Homo sapiens: one gene and its partners. The protein of the gene in region 1 purifies or fractionates together with the protein of each later gene. This does not show direct contact. Each region holds a gene or a part of one and is shown on either strand. Other genes may lie near its edges.

Region 1 (3,651 bases):
AAAGTGCTGGGATTACGAGCGTGAGCCACCTCGCCCAGCTTTTTAAAGAGACCCCGTCTTTTAAAAAAAAAAAAAAAAAAAGAAAGGAAGGCTTTAAACCTTTAATCCATCTTGAGGGGGAAAAAAATAGAGAGGCTTGCATGTCTGACTCTTGGGATGCAGTCTCATAGAAAGCATGTAGCATGCTAGGCTGGGCACGGTGGCTCACTCCTGTAATCCCAGCACTTTGGGAGGCCGAGGCGGGCGGATCACGAGGTCAGGAGATCAAGACCATCCTGGCCAACACAGTGAAACCCCTTCTCTACTAAAAATACAAAAAAAATTAGCTGGGCGCCTGTAGTCCCAGCTACTCAGGAGGCTGAGGAAGGAGAATGGCATGAACCAGAGAGGCAGAGCTTGCAGTGAGTCAAGATCGCACCACTGCACTCCAGCCTGAGCGACAGAGCGAGACTCCGTCTCAAAAAAATAAAATAAAATAAAATAATAGATAAAAAAAGAAAGCACGTGGCATACTCACTAACAAAACATCCTTCAGTATCACCAATAATAAAGCTAACATGGAGGCGGCAGACAACGGGTCTGCCTTGTATGGTGATGTTTATTTTGACGAAAGATTGACTTTTCTCCTTTATCATTCTTACTCTGAAGTCAGATGGGACTCACGTTATGGTCGGTTACATAGAAGACTTAGAGATAGGACAATAGTGGTTCTAGAAGCCAAATTTGCACTTAAAATCACTGTCACTGAAAATCTGACAACTTTTACCTCATTCACTCTGTTTTTTCTTTTTTTTTTTTGAGGCGGAGTCTCACTCTGTCGCCCAGGCTGGAGTGCAGTGGCACGATCTCAGCTCACTGCAACCTCTGCCTCCCAGATTCAAGTAATCCTCCTGCCTCAGCCTCCCGAATAGCTGGGACTACAGGGGCACGCCACCACGCCCGGCTAATATTTTTGTATTTTTAGTAGAGACAGGTTTTCATCATGTTGGCCAGGCTGGTCTCAAACTCCTGACCTCAAGTGATCCACCCGCCTCCTCCTCCTCCTCCCGAAGTGCTGGGATTACAGGTATGAGCCACCGCACCTGGCCTCATTCACTCTTCTAAGTTGTGGGTGTTGTCCTTTAAAATATATAGTTTCCACAAACTAAGCATTGTAGCTGAAAAATGAATGGCAGCTATCAGAAAAAATGCTTTAAACTAATCAAGGCTTTGTTGTTCAAAGAAAAAGCTACTACCAAAGGAAGCAGACCCTAAAACCTGAAGTACAACAAAGTATGAAGTACAAATTGATTTCCATTATAAAAAACTCAACTGTCAAGAAAGATATGACATTAGAAAACCTCATGAGGCCGAGCGCGGTGGCTCATGCCTATAATCCCAGCACTTTGGGAGGCCGAGGAGGGCGGATCACCTTAGGTCAGAAGTTCGTGACCAGCCTGGCCAACGTGGTGAAACCCCGTCTCTACTAAAAATACAAAAATTAGCCGGGTGTGGTAGCGCACGTTTGTAATCCCAGCTACTCGGGAGGCTGAGGCAGGAGAATTGCTTGAGCCCGGGAGGCGGAGCTTGCAGTGAGCTGAGATGGAGCCATTACATTCCAGCCTGGGCAACAAGAGCGAAACTCAGTCTCAAAATAAAAAAAAAAGAAAACCTCATGAGGCCAGGCGCGGTGGCTCATGCCTGTAATCCCAGCACTTTGGGAGGCAGAGGTGGGTGGATCACCTGAAGTCAGGAGTTTGAGACCAGCCTGGCCAACATGATGAAACCCCATCTCTACTAAAAATACAAAAAAAATTAGCCAGGTGTGGTGGCGGGCGCCTATAATCCCAGCTACTCAGGAGGCTGAGGCAGGAGAGTTGCTTGAACCCAGGAGACAGAGGTTGCAGTGAGCAGAGATAGCACCATGCACTCCAGCCTAGGCAACAGAGTGAGACTCCGTCTGAAAAAAAAAAACCTCACATGAAGCAAAATTCAGCACTTACTTTTCAATGTGAGAGCTCCCAAAAGAGTCCCTGCTTAAGCACACTGAGGATAGGCTTGGGTTCTATGATTACCCTCTTTGGATGTAGCTTTTCAGCTTTGCCAAGGAGGCAGGGAAAAATACTACTGGCCATTCCCCTGGATGCCCAACATCAAGCAGAGCTGAAATATCACATTCATTAAGTCCTTCCACAATATTCCACATGGCTGCTAAATCCAGTGTGTCAGGCGTTTTTTACTCCACAACCTGTGTTCTCTTCTGTACCTTCTACTGGTCTAACACTACTGACCAGGAAGGGCACCAAAGTTTCCGGAACCTTCAGAAAACACAGTTCTGGCCGGGCGCAGTGTCTCATGCCTGTAATCTCAGCACTTTGGGAGGCCAAGGTGGGTGGATCACGAGGTCAGGAGCTCCAGACTAGCCTGGTCAACATGGTGAAACCCCGTCTCTACTGAAAATACAAAAGTTAGCCGGGCGAGGTGGTGCATGCCTGTAATCCCAGCTACTCGGGAGGCTGAGGCAAGAGAATGGCTTGAACCTGGGAGGCAGAGGTTGCGGTGAGCCACGATCACATCACTGCACTCCAGCCTGGGCAACAAGAGCGAAACTCCGTCTCTTTTTTTTTTTTTTTTTGAGACAGAGTTTTGCTCTTGTTGCCCAGGCTGGAGTGCAATGGCTCGATCTCGGCTCACCACAACCTCTGCCTCGCGGGTTCAAGTGACTCTCCTGCCTCAGTCTCCTGAGTAGCTGGGATTACAGGCATGCGCCACCACACCCAGCTAATTTTGTATTTTAATAGAGACAGGGTTTATCTATGTTGATCAGGCTGGTCGCCAACTCCCAACCTCAGGTGATCCACCCGCCTCGGCCTCCCAAAGTACTGGGATTACAGGCGTGAGCCACCGCACCCAGCCTGAAATTCTGTCTCAAAAAAAAAAAGAAAAGAAAAGAAAAGAAAAGAAATACTCTCACTCAGATTATTTTTCTCACCAGTATTCTGCAGCTATGCTACACAGGGTCTGGCCAAGGAAAACATGGTTGAAATCTTCCCGAGAGTGCACATCTATCTGCTCCCTCTGACTTCCTTCACTATGGGTTTATCAAGAATTCCAAGTTGTGCATCCTATGAAAATACCCTACAGTGAAACTTCCTTTGACGAGTTGAAATCATTAATCTGTATTGACCTCGGTACACACAACAATCTGCATCAAACAGTAACGTTTTCCCATCCCAGGCCAAACAGCAGACAACACCCCAAGGAACAGAGGCACAAGGTTTGGCATTCATTTCGCATTTGCTGTCAGAAAACTCAGCTTGAGAAGTTTTAATACATCTGAGCGGTTTTCCAGAAGGTGCTCCTCCCTAATATAAGCAATGATTCATCATGAAGAAAACTTCCTTTAACATATGCACATTTCATCCTTAAAATGAGAGGATAGTTTTTAACCTCCGTGAGGTAGCTGTGAAACCTTAAAATGGGGGTGGTCTCTACAGGACTCCTTTTCTCTCAGTGGCGTAATCACCACAGATAACCTTCCACTATTCAGTCTTTTCAAATTCTTACTTCGAATAAATGCACATTATACAAAGCTAGCGTTTATCTGTTTTGTTCATCTGAAGTGAACTTAAAATTGTAGGGTTCTATATTCATTAGATAGCATGTTGATTT
Region 2 (3,651 bases), on another chromosome or scaffold:
CCTGGCCAAGAATTTTATTACTTGTATTATGACAATGTATTTCTGATCATAACTAAGAAAAATATTTCAATATTCCTTTTTCTACTTTTGGACATAGTTATTATTATTATTATTATTTTTGAGACGGAGTCTCACTCTGTCACCCAGGCTGGAGTGCAGTGCCGTGATCTCGGCTCACTGCAAGCTCCGCCTCCCAGGTTTACTTATGCCATTCTCCTGCCTCAGCCTCCTGAGTAGCTGGGACTACAGGCACCCGCCACCACACCCGGCTAATTTTTTGTATTTTTAGTAGAGATGGGGTTTCACCATGTTAGCCAGGATGGTCTCCATCTCCTGACCTCGTGATCTGCCCGCCTCAGCCTCCCAAAGTGCTGGGATTACAGGCGTGAGCCACTGCGCCCAGCCTGGACATAGTTATTAAAATGACTGATAAAGAACCATTAGCATTACAGATATTAATAATGTAGATTTATGTAGTAAACTTTTTTCAGGATTTGAACATGACATCAATTTTTATTACAATGTTGTAAACCAAGTAAGGAAAACAGCAGTTTTTCCTATTAGACAAACTGAAAAACCAAGATTCTTACTTGCTTAAGAGTTTACTGTACACAAATAACACTATAAAACACTATCTTGTTTTACTGGTTAAAGAGTATCTTGTTATTGGCTTGGAATGCTGCTTAACATCTCTTTTTTGTATTAGTGTTTATTATGTGTAACTTTACTTCAGAACCTACTTGTAATTTAAGTCAATTTCCCTTTCTAGTTATGTGGTTGGCAAAAAAGAACTTTGCGGAAGAACATTTTATAAAAAAGATTTCAATCTTGGGACAAGGTCACCAATTAAATCTTGTTTAAAATAAATAACTTTTTAAAAAGAAAAGTTCTATGGTAAACCATGTAAGGCAAAATATACATATTCACATACCACTCTCTTTCCCTTTCTCTCTCTCTGTTTTTCCTTTCCTTCTCATCAGCTTTAGGAGGACTTTTTCTCATTAGGAATCTATTTTCAGGTATAGGAGGGATCTCTTCTGGACGGACAGTAGACTGGGGTTGTGCTTCAAGATTTTCAGCTTCACTCTCACTAGATGCACTTAACAGACAGAAACACACAAAACAAGTTACAGTTGGTTATTATGTCCTTACGGAAGTATCCAATTGTTGGTATTTCTTTCCTTTATATCACTATAATATAAACATCCTGTCCTTACCAAAGATGTGATCGCATGGGAAAAATCTTCTATTCCTCTGACAAACCAACTAACCAATCAAAAAACAAACAAAACAAAACGTTTCGATTATCACACTCTCAAAAAATATTTTCCTACAAAATGGATAAAAAATATGAAACTATGTGAGCAATGCACTCTGATAAATTTAAAATACTTTAAAACATGGGTAAAGAAATTAACTGCATTTGAGCCATAGGCAGATGAAGACAAGTTTTAGTACAAACACAGATTATTTCAAGCAAAATGGAAAAGAAAGTAAAATACACTGACATTATCTGCTTTCTATCCTTATGCTATCGTAAGAGCAAAGGGGACTGCTACTGAAAATAGGAAAAACAACTGGTGGTTTTCTGCAATTTTCATAAATCCCATAATCCTCCTATAAAACACACAAATCTGTAACACCAAAGCTGTATTATTTCATTGAGTACACAAAAAAATGAACTGATAGGTTTTCTTTCAAAAGAAAATGAACGTACCCAAAATTTAATCTATAGACTGTGGAATATCAAAAGTCCTACGCTCCATGCTATATTTCTCACTATTTTAACAGTTTCATATAATTGACCCAAAATCCTAACAGATTTACAGAAAGGAAATCAGAATATAAAGCTAGCATTAGAAAAGTAAAATTAAGACCTCTTCTTGCTTTTCTTTCGCTTTTTCTTTTCTTTCTTGTGTTTTCGGGAATTTTTCCGATGTTTCTTTTTTCTTTTCTTTGATTTCTCTTCAGTAGCACTTTCGGAATCAGAGGAATCAGAAGAGGACTGAGAATCACTTGAGCTATCTGAGTCACTAGATGAGGAGGAGGAAGATGATGATGATTTATGCCTTTTCTTTTCTTCTTTCTTAACTTTAATAAAAACAAAAAGGTTTTGATCAACAATTTTTAGACAAACTTTGTGGAAGGAGATTTAAATTTTCTGCAGATTCTCACTAAGTTCAGTATTTAGCACTTAGATCATCCAGCTATGTGAACTGGGAAGTACAGGAAAGGAGTCAAGACTCAGGATTAGAGTCCAGATCTCCAGAATTCACTGGTCAAAGTTTTATCTATTAATCCAAAGAACTTTAAAAAATAGGTGAGTCTAAAATGCTAAACTAATGTTAACAAACATCTGAATAAGAATTTTTTTTAAAAGCACAGAATAACAATGAAGAGTCCCATGTTCTAATCTTGTAGTTTTCCACTTTCCCTCTTATTATCAAGATTGGCAGAACTAGTGCAGGGAAATAACAGAAAAACTGCTTTACAGCAACATGGAGAGATAAGAAATGGATTTCACTGGCATGGGCTTATATTTCAGTGCCCAAGCAGTCTTCTAATAATTAAGAAATTTAGCTCAAGAGGAGACTCATAACAGAGGGAAGTCAATTGCCCATGATGAATAGAATGTTTTGGGGACTCTACAAAAAGTCATTTTAAATTGAAATTTTATTTCAGTTAAGGAAGCAGTAACTTTAAAAAGGGTAAAAAAAAAAAAACTCAGAGTTTAAAGGATCAATTAATATAAATAAGTGAAGCTAGAAGGTGTAACATAACAAGAATTAGAAGAAGATACTACAAATTGGGAGGAGCTTGACCCATCTAAAGGTATACTCATTCAAATCATGGTGGATTTGAAGAGGCTAACTGGGGCCAAAGATGGGACAATATTGATATATACATGAGAACTACAATAAATTGAGATATATCAGATTATATTAGAAATACATTAGTTCACAGTGATACTCATAAAGTATAAAGCATTTATCTTGCCTTTGTGGTACAAACTGCACCACTGGCTAATGAAATGAATGAAGGGAAATAGCTCTTTGTCAGAAGCATTCCAGGAATAAATGAAAAAGAAATTATAGTGTTAAAATATCGTTTTACAACTTCTTGTGAGGCACTGATAACCCATGGCTGCTGCAAAACACAGAGACAACTTGTCCTGTGTGACTCCTGTTTTCATTAAAAGGAATTTCAAGTCACAACTGCATCTGATCAACATTACATAACACAGTAAGGACTCAATTAGTAAAATCCAGTATGTTCAATTATAGAAAATGCTACATGACAAATGACCTACCTTTTCTGAGAAATACATTTCAAGGAAACATAAAACAAGATGGTGAGGGAATTTATTAAGAAACAAAACACAACTTACAAGACCAATTTCAATGTCTGAACTTCATTTGGATTGATTCACACAGCAAAAAATTAATTAACATTAATGAAACAATTACAATCTGAACACTGTCAGGATTTTTAGTATTTAGGAATGTGTATGTGTGTATCATTATGGTACTGTTTTTAAGAATCATCTTTTAGAAATAACATTTATTGATAAAATATTATGCCTGGAATTTGTTTCAAAATAATAGGAAAGGGAAAAGTGGCTAGTGATGGGTAAAACAAGATTGGCCATAA
Region 3 (3,651 bases), on another chromosome or scaffold:
TCTGCAGCCTGGCACTTCACACAGCCCATTTTTAGCACCCCCCTTCCTCTATATCACAACCGCTTCAATTACTCAGCTGACACCAATTTCCCACAGCTGACCCTCTCAATCCCTTATTGGAGACACTCACTGGGTAGTCCCCAGGGGGGCCCCAGTTCCCGGCGGGGCCCCGGTGAGGTGGGGGTAGGGGAGGCTTTGGGGCAGGAGGTCCCGGCTCTGTCTCTGGAGGCCGAGAGGTTTCTGCCCAGGCCGTCTTAGGAGTGGGCGGTTCGCTGTTGGGGGAGTTGCCCTTTTTGCCATCTGCTTCAGGGGGCCGTTCCTCACCAGAAGCTGATTGGGAATCCCTGCTGTGAGCAGATCAACAGTGAAATTAAAATCAGCTGCAACTAATATACTCCTCTAAGAGTATATTACCAAAATACAAACCAAGACCCCCTCCTCTTCTCCCCTGATGGCCCTAACTCACTGGCCCTCAGCACCCTCCTCATCAGAGTCTCGCCCATCTTCCTCATCGCTGAACTTGAGCTTTTCAGTGTAGTCAACCTCTTCATGGGCCCCTGAGGGGAAATATGAGTATTAGTAACCCAAGCATTCTGCCCTCCAATCTTGGGAGGTAGTCTGGAACTATGTAACAAGATGGACTACCAATGCCAATATCCTTCCCTCCGAAGTCTAGATCCACCAATGAAGTCTTGTCATTCTTACTCCTCTCACCACTTTGCAAGGACTTGGTATTCCCCATCCATCCTCCCCTACTCTTTTTTTTTTTTCCTTTTAAAAGTCTCGCTCTGTTGCCCAGGATGGAGTTCAGTGGCACGATCATAGCTCACTGTGACCTCCAACTCCTGGGCTCAACTGATCCTCCCACCACAACCTCCAGAGTAGCTGGGACCACAGATGCACAGTCCACACCCAACTAAAAAATTTTTTTTTTTTTGTAGAGGTGGGGGGTCTTGCTGTGTTGCCCAGGCTGGTCTTGAACTCCTGGCTTCAAGCGATCCTCTCACCTAACACTCCCAAAGCACTGGGATTACAGATGTGAGCCATTGGGCCTGGTCTTCCTACACTTCAATGTCTGCCTTTCACCCACATAACCCTGTATTTTTTTTTCCTCATTAGGTTTTGCCTTTCAAGATCCAAATTCTTGACCCTTAATATCCACTTACCTGCCCAACCATCATCATTCTCCTGATCCAACTGATCAAACTCTTTGAGATTATCCTCTTTGAGAATAGAGGGACGACCCACAGGCTCTACTAAGCGCATTGGTGGCCCTGAGCCTCGGGGGCCCGCCACACGGGGAAAACGGCTGTACACAAAAAAGAAAATGAAATATGGCATGTTGTATAACCACATGCGAGACTGATCCTAGACTGAGCCTCCTGGCTAGAAAACCATCTCCTCCCCCAATAAGCTTCCCCTGCCCCCAGCCACAAACCCAGACCTGGATTGCTCACCTGGGCCCATCAGGAGTGGGGTATCGGTAAGGCCCCTGGGGTCCATAGGGCGGAGGGAACGGGAGATATGGGGGATACATCTGTAAAAGGGTCCAACAGTAGCTGCTCAGAGGGACAGTCATATACCCTTCTAGCTCCTTAAGCCTGCTATCAATCATCCTCCCACCCTCCCTTCTATCTCATAGGTCAAAGACTAAGTCCTGATTCCTAGCTCTCCAGCTTCCAGTGTAATCGTTCCAAGACAAGACACCAAGACTCACGAAAGGCGGCATCATTCCGCGGTAGGGAGGGAACTGGGGTGGGCCTGAAGGCTGTAGCCCACCCCGGGGATCATGACCATGATGAAGTTTGGAGTCCGGGCCCTCCAGCTCATCAGGGCCACGCCCACCTCCGTCCCTCCAAGTTGTAGAATCTGTATTTTGGAAAAGGTAGAGAGAGGTATCAATGATTGGAGGACAAGTGAACACAGCTGAAAGTGATGGGGAGGAAGGTGAATAAGCCAGCACCTAGCTCTGAGATGCAATAGGTAATGTCTTGGCCAAAAGGCAGCCACTCACTTTGGGGGCGGAGGCTTGGTCCGGGCCCAGACGACTGTTCGGCAGACTCCCTTTCCTTGGCAGCCTTGTCCTGGTCGCCAGCCGCCTGCAGGGTCGGAAATTCCTCTCGAGAGAATCGTGACAGTAGGCTTGATGCCCTTCCACCTATTAGGATGGGGATGCAGAACAGGAGACAGAAGACATTTCCTGAGGACATGCTATAAAAGTGGAAGACTCTGGCTGGGCGCGGTGGCTCACGCCTGTAATCCCAGCACTCTGGGAGGCTGAGGCGGGCGGATCACGAGGTCAAGAGATCGAGACCATCCTGGCCAACATGTGAAACCCCATCTCTACTAAAAACACACAAAAAATTAGCTGGGTGTGTTGGCGTGTGCCTGTAGTCCCGCTACTCTGGAGGCTGAGGCAGGAAAATCGCTTGAACCCAGGAGGCAGAGGTTGCAGTGAGCCGAGATTGCGCCACTGCACTCCAGCCTGGGTGACAGAATGAGACTCCGTCTCAAAAAAAAAAAAAGTGGAAGGCTCTGACAGGTACCAGACCATCAGGTTTCCCGCCTTCAAACTCACCCCCCTACAGAATAACTGCTTATTCCCCAAGGAGGTCAGTTCTGGCACCACTACACTCCATCATATAAGACTGAGACTTAAACTTGCTCATGTGCCTCCATGAAACTGAATATGGGTGGTCCTTGATTTAGCCAAAGAGGACCAAGGTCACTTGGCTGAAAATACAGTGCAGGGTTCATGCATCCCATGGTGCCCAGACACAGCTCCCCAATTAAGTGCTGCACTCACCATCTCCATGTGCTCCATGGGTGACGCTGGCTTGTGCCCAGGACTTTACCCCGCTTGGAACCAAAGGAGTGTTCTGGGGAAGTGTTCAGAAAGATGATAAATGATGTGGGTGGGGCAGCTATGAACCATTCTTCCTCCCCACCCCTCCAGTTCTCCAGGTACCTCGGGGGCTGCTGGGGGTCGTTTCGGCTGGTTGGAGGCAGGCGTCTGTGAAGCCGGCAGTGGCTGCGATTCCGGCGGCTGAGCGGTTGAGGCATCGGAACTGAGGGGACAGAATGGGAAGGTTATTCACACCTGAGATGCCTCCCTGACTTCTCCAACTGGTGGAGACTCAGGACTGAAATCATGCCCATTGCTACCATTTACAAATATAAGGACAAATTAATTTTGTCATCCTTTGTAGGCTGTTGTCTATTTTTTCATGCTCTCTCTCCAAGACAAAAAGCTAAAGTTTAGTACCATTCCTTAGTCATTTAACAAGGAACCTGCAATAGGTAAGAAAGGGACCTCTTCGTCTCTGGCTCAGACGTGGCTGGACTAAACCAAGCCCCAATGCTCCCTGAAGTTCAAGTTAAAATACCCATCACTCTAGGTCCCCCAAGCCTCTGTCTACCTCTTGGGGTCGGACTGCTCCTGTTTGCTTGCCCATCCTGTTCCGTCTTTTGGCACTAGTGAGACATTGGGGTCATTGCCTTTGTTCTCGGCTTTCAGGCTTGGAAGGTTGGCTGGAGGTGGCATACGCCGGGCAATGGCAACTTTCCCGAGACTCTGCAGGCCATGGCGAGGGGCAACTGGAGAACAAGACGGAGAGAGGGTCGAAAATGCCTCATGTGGGAGATCTGATG

The links.
Region 2: the proteins of LUC7L (region 1) and PPIG purify together in Homo sapiens (affinity purification with mass spectrometry; 3 studies listed by BioGRID and IntAct, with this or other methods). This does not show direct contact.
Region 3: the proteins of LUC7L (region 1) and PRRC2A purify together in Homo sapiens (affinity purification with mass spectrometry; 2 studies listed by BioGRID and IntAct, with this or other methods). This does not show direct contact.

What each region holds. Positions count from the first base shown.
Region 1 is NC_000016.10:222,890-226,540, forward strand, and holds part of LUC7L (putative RNA-binding protein Luc7-like 1), read right to left. Parts: intron 1-3,651. UniProt on the Homo sapiens protein: May bind to RNA via its Arg/Ser-rich domain.
Region 2 is NC_000002.12:169,629,214-169,632,864, reverse strand, and holds part of PPIG (peptidyl-prolyl cis-trans isomerase G), read right to left. Parts: intron 2,092-3,651; coding exon 1,878-2,091; intron 1,267-1,877; coding exon of another isoform or gene 1,218-1,266; intron 1,100-1,217; coding exon 932-1,099; intron 1-931. UniProt on the Homo sapiens protein: PPIase that catalyzes the cis-trans isomerization of proline imidic peptide bonds in oligopeptides and may therefore assist protein folding. May be implicated in the folding, transport, and assembly of proteins.
Region 3 is NC_000006.12:31,623,678-31,627,328, reverse strand, and holds part of PRRC2A (protein PRRC2A), read right to left. Parts: intron 3,598-3,651; coding exon 3,420-3,597; intron 3,069-3,419; coding exon 2,969-3,068; intron 2,880-2,968; coding exon 2,807-2,879; intron 2,159-2,806; coding exon 2,015-2,158; intron 1,870-2,014; coding exon 1,718-1,869; intron 1,538-1,717; coding exon 1,458-1,537; intron 1,310-1,457; coding exon 1,167-1,309; intron 558-1,166; coding exon 467-557; intron 348-466; coding exon 131-347; intron 1-130. UniProt on the Homo sapiens protein: May play a role in the regulation of pre-mRNA splicing.